Regions from separate parts of the Homo sapiens genome. Here region 2 is linked to region 1. The links come from fine-mapping of genetic effects on gene expression. A gene starts in region 1. The other region holds a variant in brackets. All regions are shown on one strand. Distances are from middle to middle.

The links. PIP is the estimated chance that this variant, and not a neighbour inherited with it, causes the effect.
Region 2: its variant is the best candidate, but not a certain one, in a credible set for the expression of ACSM5 in subcutaneous fat (TwinsUK, PIP 0.51).

The regions. Positions count from the first base shown.
Region 1 is chr16:20,406,805-20,412,181 of GRCh38, forward strand. It overlaps ACSM5 (acyl-CoA synthetase medium chain family member 5), which reads left to right and starts at 2,730. Exons shown (of 14, transcript NM_017888.3): 1 at 2,730-2,861; 2 at 4,666-4,884. The coding sequence starts at 4,681.
Region 2 is chr16:20,590,734-20,596,110 of GRCh38, forward strand. It overlaps the pseudogene LOC112267906. Among named protein-coding and RNA genes, the nearest start is that of ACSM2B, 17 kb to the left of the region's middle. The variant C/G (reference allele first, on the strand shown) is at 3,062.

The sequences.
Region 1 (5,377 bases):
CACTGTGCCCGGCTTAAAGCTTCTTTTTATAAAATAACATTAATTTCTTTCTGATTAGAAAAGAACAGGATTTAATTTCTAAAACATAGAACATACAGAAAAAATGAGTTAATTGAAATCATACATCATCTTACTTAGAGAAACATTCATATTTTGTTACGTATGGGATTAATATATACTTTTTAAAAATAAAATTGTGATTATATTGTCTATAAAGTGTATCCAGTTCTTTCATTGAACATTTATGAAACATTTGTCATGACTTATGATTATATATTCTTCTAAAAAGTACTGATTGAGAGTAACGATATTGAGATTAGACTGCTGGAGAAATAATGTTCAACAGTCCGTCCACCCCTCTGAGGGTAGAGATTGTATCTTTACATCTGGCTGCAGATTCAGAGATGAGGTTGTATCCTGGGTCGCAGTAGAGGACTGAATGCTGAGCAAATGGACATTGAGGGCTCATAAGATGGTTCCCTGTGGCCAAGCTTGGCGGCAAGGGAGAGGAGCTGCCTGCGTGGAAATGGGCCAAACTGGCCAGGCCAGGAAATGAGACAGAGTCACAGGGGAACAACATACAGTGATGGATAAAAATCCAGGGTGAAGTTTGAATCACTGCAAAGATAGGCAGTTAATGGCTCAGCATCCTCTCTATAGGACACCCATAACCCTGTCATTTGCAACAACATGGATGGAACTGGAAGTCATTACATTAAGGGAAGTAAGCCAGGCATAGAAAGCAAACATTGCACATTCTCGCTTACCTGTGGGAGCTAAACAGGAAAACAAATGAACTCATGGAGACAGTAGAAGGACGGTTACCAGAGGCTGGAAAGTGTTGCAGGGAGTTGGAGGAGAAGTGGGGATGGTTAATGGGTACAAAAAAGTAGTAAGAGTGAATGAATAAGGCCTAGTATTTCCTAGCACAATAGGATGACTATCTTCAAAAATAATGTAACCATACACCTAAAATAACTACAATAGTATAAATGGATTGTTTGTAACACAAAGGATAAATGTTTGAGGTGATGGACACCCCATTTACCCTGATGTGATTCTAACGCATTGCATGCCTGTATCAAAATATCTCATGTAACCCATAAATGTATATACCTACTATGTACCCACAAAAATTAAAAATAATTTAAAAAGAACTTCAGAGAACAAACAACAAAAAGACCGGTATGGCTGGAGCAGACTGAGACAGGAGGTTTGAGGCGAAAGGCTCACAGGAATTCCTGTGGGGCCCTGTAGGCAATTGCCAGGACTTTTTTTTTTTTTTTGAGACGGAGTCTCACTCTGTCTCCCAGGCTGGAGTGCAGTGGCACGATCTCGGCTCACTGCAACCTGTGCCTCCCAGGTTCATGCCATTCTCCTGCCTCAGCCTCCAGAGTAGCTGGGACTACAGGCGCCCACCAGAGTAGCTGGGACTACAGGCGCCACCACGCCTGACTAATTTTTGTATTTTTAGTAGAGACAGGGTTTCGCCGTGTTAGTCAGGATGGTCTCAATCTTCAGACCTCGTGATCCGCCCGCCTTGGCCTCCCAAAGTGTTGGGATTACAGGCGTGAGCCATCCCACCCGGCAATCGTCAGGACTTTGGCTTGGACTGTGAGTGAGATAGGGAGTTGCAGGAAGCTTTTTCGAAAAACCACCTTTGGGCCAGGTGCAGTGGCTCCCACCTATAATCCCAGCACTTTGGGAGGCCAAAGCAGGCAGATCACTTAAGGTCAGGAATTTGAGACCAACCTGGCCAACATGTTGAAACCCCATCTCTACCAAAAAAATACAAAAATTAGCCAGGCATGGTGGTGCATGCCTATATTCCCCGCTACTCGGGAGGTTGAGGTGGGAGGATCGCTTGAACCCGGGAGGTGGAGGTTGCAGTGAGCCAAGATTGCGCCACTGCACTCCAGCCTGGGCGACAGAGCAAGAGCCTGTCTCCAAAAACAAACAAAAAAACCCAAAAAACTTCTTTTGGCAGTGTACAATTATTATTACTATTTTTTGTAGTAAATTTACAGAGATCTGCAGTCATGACCACAATCCAAATTTAGAACAATTCTATGACTTCAAAGGGATGCCTTAGAGCCGTTCCCTGGAACCACTCCTCTGTTCTCTCTGTATCTACTGGAGGGTTCTAAGCAGAAAAGAAACAAAGTCTGACTTATATTATTATCACTATTGCACCTTTTCTGTTAAAACATCATAATCCCAGCACTTTGGGAGGCCGAGGCGGGCGGATCACGAGGTCAGGAGATCGAGACCGTCCTGGCTAACACGGTGAAACCCCGTCTCTACTAAAAAATACAAAAAATTAGCCGGGCATGGTGGTGGGCGCCTGTAGTCCCAGCTACTCGGGAGCCTGAGGCAGGAGAATGGCGCAAACCCGGGAGGTAGAGCTTGGGGTGAGCCAAGATCGCGCCACTGCACTCCAGCCTGGGCCACAGAGGGAGACTCCGTCTCAAAACAAACAAACAAACAAAAAAAAAAACCCGTCATAATCTTCCTGTTGCTTTTTCCGATTAGATGGCGACTTGAATTTTTAGGGAATACATCCACCAGTTTGGGCACACCCACCAGGCACGACAGTTGAGGTCTGATCTTCCAGCCACTGTGAGTACTGAGAAAACTTGGCAGGGGGCCACTCTCACTGGCTCAATGCACCCTGACCACTGGAAGCCACTGTGTCAGCTGCTGGGTTCTGGCTCTGCCCACTCTTGGCTGCATTTGGGGCTGAAGTTCCCTGTGGGAGGCTGTTTTCTGAGGGAGCTGAGTGTTTACAGCCACTCAGCCCTGCTCTGCTCAGCTGAAGCAGAAAACAGAGACCTTTTGCATTACTTTGGTTCAAGAGCAAGGTAATTTGGAAAGAAATTTTTCAGACGAAGGTATCAGCTGCCTCTGAGGCCTTTGCTGATTAAATCAAGAAGTGACATCTGAAATGGTGTCGGGGAATGGGAAGGAGGCCTGGGGATTCTAAATTATCAGCTGTTTAGGTGGCTGAGGAATCCAGGGGTGGGAGACTGAGGAAAAGGACTGGGGCAGAGCTCAGTTCAGGAGAGGTGAGGGGCGGGAGAGGTGAGGGGCGGGAGAGGTGAGGGGCGGGAGAGGTGAGGGGCGGGAGAGGTGGGTCAGAGAAAGGAAGTCTCTGAGGCTGCAGGCCTAGGCCTGGTGGCCACTGCAGAGGCTGGGGCCTATGTTTTTCCAGGAAGTGAAACCTGAAAGTCACTTTTCCCCTTTAAGCCTCATTTTCTTTATCTTTAAATGGAGAAAATAACATTTACAGCATAGAGTTGTTATAAAGATTTCATGAAATAATGCCTCTAAGCACTCTTAAAATGCTTGGTACACAGTAGGCCTTCAATAGACTGAAGCTGTTATGGTTTTTCTTGTTGTGCCACGTTATTATTGTTGGTTGTTATTACCATATTTTGTTATTATTATTACTAAGAGGAATTTAATGCAAGGAAACTGAAACTGAGGTCACACGCAGCTCCCGGGCCAGTGCCTCTCAAACTTTAACATGCATATGACTCATCTGAAGATCCCGTTAACTTGCAGATTCTAATTCTACATATGTAGGGTGGGGTCCCATCTGCTGGTCCCAAGATCACACTTTGAGTAGCAAGACACTAAAACTGGGCTGGGCACAGTGGCTCACATCTGTAATCCCAGCACTTGGGAGGCCGAGTTGGGAGGATCACTTGAGGCCAGGGGTTCAAGCCCTGCCTGGGCAACATAGTGAGATCCTGTTTCTACAAAAAAACTTTTTAAAAGTTAGCCACACATGGTGGCTAGTGCCTGTAGTCCCAGCTACTAGGAAGCCTGGGGTGGAAGGACTGCTTGAGTTTGAGGCTGCAGTGAGCTATGATGGCACCACCGTACTCTAGCCTGGGCAGCAGAGTGAGACTCTGTCTCAAAAACAACAATAATAAAAATTTTAAAAATAATAAAATTAAATAAAAAAATTAAAAAGACACTAAAAGCCCATCATGCCATACAGCAGCCACTTGTGGCTTTTGAGCACTTGAAGTGTGGCTAGTCCAAATTGACATGTGTTTGTAAGGGTAAAGTCTATTTCAGATTGTGAGGACTTAGTACCAAAAAAAACAAAAAATAAATAAAAGTATGTAAAATATCTCTTTAACAATTTATTCTTCTATTGACTAGGAATTGAAATGGTCATACTTTGGCTCTATCTGGTTAAATAAAATGTTTTATTATAATAAATCTCACCTGCTTCTACTTTTCTTAATGGAAGTACTAGAACATTGTAAATTGCACAGGTGGCTCACGTTCTATTTCTGTTGGACAGTGCTGCCCTAGAGCTGTCTTCAGCTTTGCAAGGTCAGTTCAGGATTGGCCAAAGCCTTTTTGAGGGATTCCTTTTGAAGTATTGAGGTTTGAGAAGTGGGATCTGAGTTCTGACCTCAGACCCAGATACCCACAAGTCAGTGAGAGGTCAAAAGGACAGACCTCGGGGTCAGAGGAGAGAAATGACCATCACACAGCAGAACTGAGACTGAAGGTGGAGAGTTTATTCTACAAGTCAGTAAGGATCACAGTCACCATCAGCACTAACCACAGGTTTCTCCTAACCTATGTGTTGTCCCCAAAGCCCAGAATTTATGACAATGCCCTCTTTCCTCTCTTTGGTGACAGACAGGAGGCGACTGCATGAGACCATGGCTGAGACACCTAGTCCTCCAGGCACTGAGGAACTCCAGGGCATTCTGTGGGTCTCATGGGAAGCCAGCACCTCTACCTGTTCCTCAGAAGATCGTGGCCACCTGGGAAGCCATCAGCCTGGGAAGGCAGCTGGTGCCTGAGTACTTCAACTTCGCCCATGATGTGCTGGATGTGTGGAGTCGGCTGGAAGAGGTGAAGCCTGTTCTGTCCTAGAGTCCATCTGGGGCATCTGAGGCTGCCCTCATGTACCACAATGAGACTCAAGGCTCCAAGCATGTTGATGAGGAAATTTGGACCTGGGAATTTTGCTAGTTCTAAAATGTAAACTGTTGGCATTTGAGACTTAGGAAAAAATTCTGAGTCAGTGTTGTGAGCCTTAGACATGCTTGTTCCTTCTCTGAAGTGTCCTGCATTCTTGAGCCCAAATCACACAGTGAGACAGTTATGTCCCTTCCGATTCCCTTCCAGTTGTTCATCAACTGAAGGAGGAAGTTTTGTTTTGCTGCTACTCTGTCTTTGATGTTTTTCTCTCACTGTCACGCCCTTCTCTTCTAAATAAGGAAAGAAGGCCGGGCGCGGTGGCTCATGACCATAATCCCAGCACTTTGGGACACCGAGAAGGGCAGATCACCTGAGGTCAGGAGTTCGAGACCACCCTCACCAACATGGTGAAACTCCGTCTCTA
Region 2 (5,377 bases), 180 kb after region 1:
TTTCTTCCCATGAACCAAAAGTAGCCTTCCTTGTCCATGCGAGCTCGCTCCCCTGTGATATAAAAGCCCCCTTGTTCTGATGCAGCTGTCTTCTCAGGATTGTCCTGAAAGACAAAGACAACCCGTGAAGGACCCTCTGGGAACAACCGCTAAGGCCAGTTACTGCCCCAGTAGCCCCCTGTAGGAAGCTGGAGACCACTCAACAGAAAGTTCAGCAGTTCCTAAAGTCCCAGCTGCCCAGAGTTCCCCAATGGACAGGGAGCTATGGCCCTGTTTAGTTGTGGGATTTCCCTCTTTTGATTGGAATCAAGCTGCCAGCCAATGGTTAAGGGCAGCCACCCACCACCATCCTTAGAAGGGGGTCTAGAAAGCATAGTTGAAAGCAGGAGGGTGGGCACAGGGCCACTGGCTGTGGTTTTTAGGACAAGAGAACACATGAATACTCTTTGTGCTCAGGAATCACTGAGGGTAGAAAGTGAAGGGCTAGGCCGGGTGTGGTGGCTCATGCCTGTAATCCCAGCACTGTGGGAGGCTGAGGTGGGTGGATCACTTGAGGTTTGGAATTTGAGACCAGCTGGCCAATATAGTGAAACCCTGTCTCTATTAAAGATAAACAAATTAGCTGGGTGTGGTGGTGCATGCCTGTAATCCCAGCTACTTGGGAGGCTGAGGCAAGAGAATTGCTTAAACCTGAGAGAAAGCTGTGAAGAAAAGAAAGCCCGACATAAACACCAGCCAAGATGAATACAAAAGGAAGCAGTTACTGAATTATCCCAGAAACTTGGACTGAAATCCCAGGTTTGTGCCCTGCTAGCAAACCACAAAAAGAATCCTGAAGACAGCTCTGACACAATAGTGCAGTTTGACTTTTATGTATTTATTTATTTTATTATTATTATTATTATTATTATTATTATTATTATTATTATTATTATTTGAGACAGAGTCTCCTTCTCTTGCCCAGGCTGGAGTGCGGTGGCATGATCTTGGCTCACTGCAACCTCCTCCTCCCCGGTTCAAGCGATTCTCCTGCCTCAGCTTCCCAAGTAGCTGGGAATAGAGGCGTGTGCCACCATGCCTGGCTGATTTTTGTATTTTTGGTAGAAACGGGGTTTCACTATGCTGACCAGGCTGGTGTTGAACTCCTGACCTCAGGTGATCCACCTTCCTCGGCCTCCCAAAGTGCTGGGATTACAGGTGTGAGCCACCGCAACCGGCTGCAGTTTGACCTTCAGAAGCTCCTTTCCTTTACTGCGCCTCGATTTTCTCCTCATTAAAACAACGGTGCTGCCCTCATGTCATATGTTTACGCTTTCAGACACACCCACGTTTAAATCCCATGTCCTGCCTGTACTAGTTGCATGATGCTGGATAAGTCACTTCCCCTTTGTAGTAGCTTCCTTATTAATAATAGTCTTCCTTATCAATAACAGAACTTTATTAATAATAGTAGCAACCTACCTCATGCAGTCATTGTAAGGATTAAACAAATAGATACTTACAAAGTGTGGTGCACAATGCTTAGCACACAGTCACCGTCATGAGAACAGCTGTTCCCCGTCTCTTACCAAATAGCAATTGAAGAAACAGAAGGGCCGGGTGGTTCTGATACGACGGCAACATTCCCCTCTTCTCCAGGAGGCAGGACATTGCCCTCATCATCCACAATCTGGTAAGGAGATCATCACAGAGGTGCATACATGAGTGTCTACACCCTGGGCCCCTCCAGCAGCCCAGCAGCCCAGCAGCCCGTGCCAGCCAGGCCTGTGTGTCTTTCTCCTCTCCACGCCAGGCCTTGCCAGAAGTTGGGGGAGTCTGCTACCTGCACATTGTAGGGTGGGGACACCTTCCCCATGGATCCAGACTTGATTTTCATGCCTTTTGGATTGGCACAGATGACAACCTGGGGAGAACTCAGTACAGATAAAGAAGAGCCTTTCCACTTAGCTTCTTTCCTGGGCCATGCCTTTCTCTCACCCTGCCTGATAACTCTTTCTCTCATCCTCTTTTTTCTCCTCCCTCACTTTCTTCTTTCTTTCCCTTCTCCTCTCTCCATTTCTCTCCATTCTTCCTCCCTTCTTTCTTTTCTTTTTTCTTCCTTGCTCACTCCTTCCTTTCCTCTTTCTTTCCTTTCTTTCCCCTTTCCTGTTTTCTTCCTTCCCTCCTTCATTTTCTTTCCTCCTTCTTTTTTCATTCCTTAACCCGTTATTTCATTCTCCATTTTCCTCTCTCCTCCCTTCTTCTTTGTTCCCTATTTCCTTCCTTCCTTTCATCTTTTTCCTCTTCCTTCCTTCTTTTCCTTTCTCTTTCCTTTATTTCCTCTTTCCCTTCCTTCTTCATTTTCTTCCCTCTTTCTTGCCTGTCTTTCTTCTTTTCTTTCCATAGTTAGCAAACAACTATGGGGCACTCCAGTGGGCACTCAAACATAAAGAACTTAACCCATCTCTAAGCCAAAAGACTCAGTTGATCCCCAGATCTCTTCCTAGATGACTATAGAGGACGCTGCTTAGAATCTTGGACTCTGAACAGTGGCAGATGTAGACTGTCTTGGTGGAGACAAACAATGCCTTCAGCAGTGAGGGCTGGTTTGCTGGTCATGGTATAATTGTAAAAGTACTTTAAATTACCTTTTTTTAATTTATAAGTAGTGTGTGTGTGTGTGTGTGTGTGTGTGTGTGTGTGTATTTCAATAGCTTTTTGGGTACGAGCGTTTTATGTAACATGGATGAATTCTATACTGGTGAATCCTGAGATATTAGTGCATCTGTCACCTGAGTAGTGTACATTATACCCAATATGTAGTTTTTTTACCCTCACGCCCCTCCTCCCACCTTCCTCCTTCTGAGTCTCCAAAGTCTTTTATACCACTCTGTATGTCTTTGCATCCTCATAGCTTAGCTCCCACTTATAAGTGAGAACATATGGAAATCAAAAGGGAAGGAAAGCTGATGGAATTTTGTTATCGGCTTCTCCCCTGGGGGAAGGGTGGTCCCTGAGAAGCTTCAGAGAGGTGACAGCTGGAGAGGCAGGAAGCTCTCAAGCGGACCTGGGGGGTGGGGAC[C/G]TGGGGGGTAGGGACCTGGCCCCTCCAGCACTCACCGTTTCAGACTGGCCATAGCCTTCGTACAGCTCCACACCGGTCTGGCGTTTCCACTTCTCCCTCACGTCAGGGTTGAGGGCCTCTCCTCCGGTCAGACAGTGCCTCAGGCTCTGAAACTGGTACCTTCCTCAGGCAGGAAAACAAGGCCACCTATGTCAGGATCTTCATACCACCCCGCCCTCTGGTGCCACTGCCCAGATGCAAACACCACAGGCACTAGAGGTAGATGCCCCTGCTTTTTAATCTTCTCTAAGTGAGTCCACCCACTGGCTTTGCAACCATGCTCCTCATGGACAGATAATTTTTAAAAGATCCATCCCATCTGAGTTTGAGATAAAATCAGAAGCTCATATAATAGGTTTTGGCATAATATGGTGAGTTCCAGGTAACTTGGCCAAAATAATTTAGTTGGAAAAAAACTGATAATAAATTGGTTAGGACAGTAATCTGATTGAAAAGGATAGATCAATTAGAAATTGAAAAGATAGGCCAGGCACCATGGCTCACACCTGTAGTCCCAGCACTTTGGGAGGCCTAGGTGGGCAGATTGCATGATCTCAGGAGTTGAAGACCAGCCTGGTCAACGTGGTAAAACCCCGTCTCTACCAAAAAGTACTAAAACTTAGCCAGGTATGGTGGCACATGCCTGTAGTCCCAGCTACTTGGAAGGTTGAGGTGGGAGGAAAGCTGGAACCTGGGAGGCGGATGTTGCAGTAAGCCGAGATCATGCCACTGCACTCCAGCCTGGGCAACAGAGCAAGACTCTGTCTCTAAAATAAATAAATAAATAAAAATAAAAGAAAAAGGAAAAGAAAGGAAAGAAAAGAAAATTGAAAAGATAAAAATTAGACCCCTAAGAATCCCAAAAATTCCTACAGATATTAATTATGTTGCAAAATGCCCTCTCTGTTCAACAAATCATCCAAACTATTAAAAAAAAATCAGTGATTGTAAGTACATTTTTAATCTTGGAGGAGAGGGGAGATCAAATTGGCTTGATTAAGTTACTTATTATTACCAAAGAGCATTCAACGACATTGTTCTTAACGAGGTACTTGGAGCTTGCTTTCAGCCAAAATCATCATGTGGAGATGCACACATCAGATCAATGAATGGGATGATTTTCTTACATTGGAGAAGAATTCACTTTTAGAAACATGTAAGAACTCCCTCTTTTGGACACTTGGTGGGTAGATTCATGTGATTAGGAAAGAAGAAAGGACGACTCCTCATGACTTGGGGGAGGACAAAAGAGGGAGAACAGATCAGGGTTGGTGGATACTGAAGGATGGTGGGCCTCTCTCCATATACCCCAGCAACTAGCCCTGTTCTGCTAGAAGATGTTGCTTTGGCTTCACCCAGGATGGAGCCATCATCAGTGCCTTGTCCCTTTCTCTTGGGTGTCCAATGACATGTGCTCAGAGAACAGTTGGCTGGGGTTACTCTGAGGCTGAGAGTTGGGGCATCTACTGTGGTGCGGGCTTGTTAGTTTCACCACACCTGAGGGCCCTGGCCACAAACCGCACTCCATAGGTGGCTAACAATTGTCCAATCATTTCTCTTCCCTCACAGAAGTAGCAGACACACTGCTGACAGAATAGCCCATGGGTGTATGGTGTGAGGAGAAGCCTATCTCAGGTGCTAAAATTTCAGTCTGCCTTAAATCTATTTAGTTCCATCTGGATGCAAATTTTGGGGGGCCAGAAGCTTGTTCTTGAGGGGCATCTGTGAGATTTACAGGTATGTTGACTTGTCAATGTGTATGTGTATAAATGTGTGTGGGAGAGAGAGACAAAGAGAGAGGCAGAAAAATATATAGAGGGGGAGACAGAGAAAGAAAGAGAGTTGGAATGAGAGGGTAGTTGTGTGTGTGGATACCCATGCTATATATTCACATACTTAGGCCCTCAAAGCACGAAATAGATGGGCTGTACCTGGTCAGATCCTCCTGCACAAGCAGCCGAAAGATGGTTGGAACACAGCAGAGGGTGGTTATTGGGAATGTGGAGAGAGTCTAAACAAAAACAAAGGGTGAAAGATGTCCTTAGAATCACTGGGGTGGGGCCATGAAGATGGAGCCAAATGCATCTTTATAGTCTCAGTACCAAAGCAGAGAAGCTGAAAACTATGTGTGGAATCCAGCAGCCAACATGGTGTCCAGTGACCCCTACTTCCTGGCATGTTCAACTTTGGAGGATCCCCTCTCACCTCATACCAAAGTGGGTCTGTGACAGCAGTGGTATACTGCCAAGGTGATGAATACCACTTTCAAGATTTGGT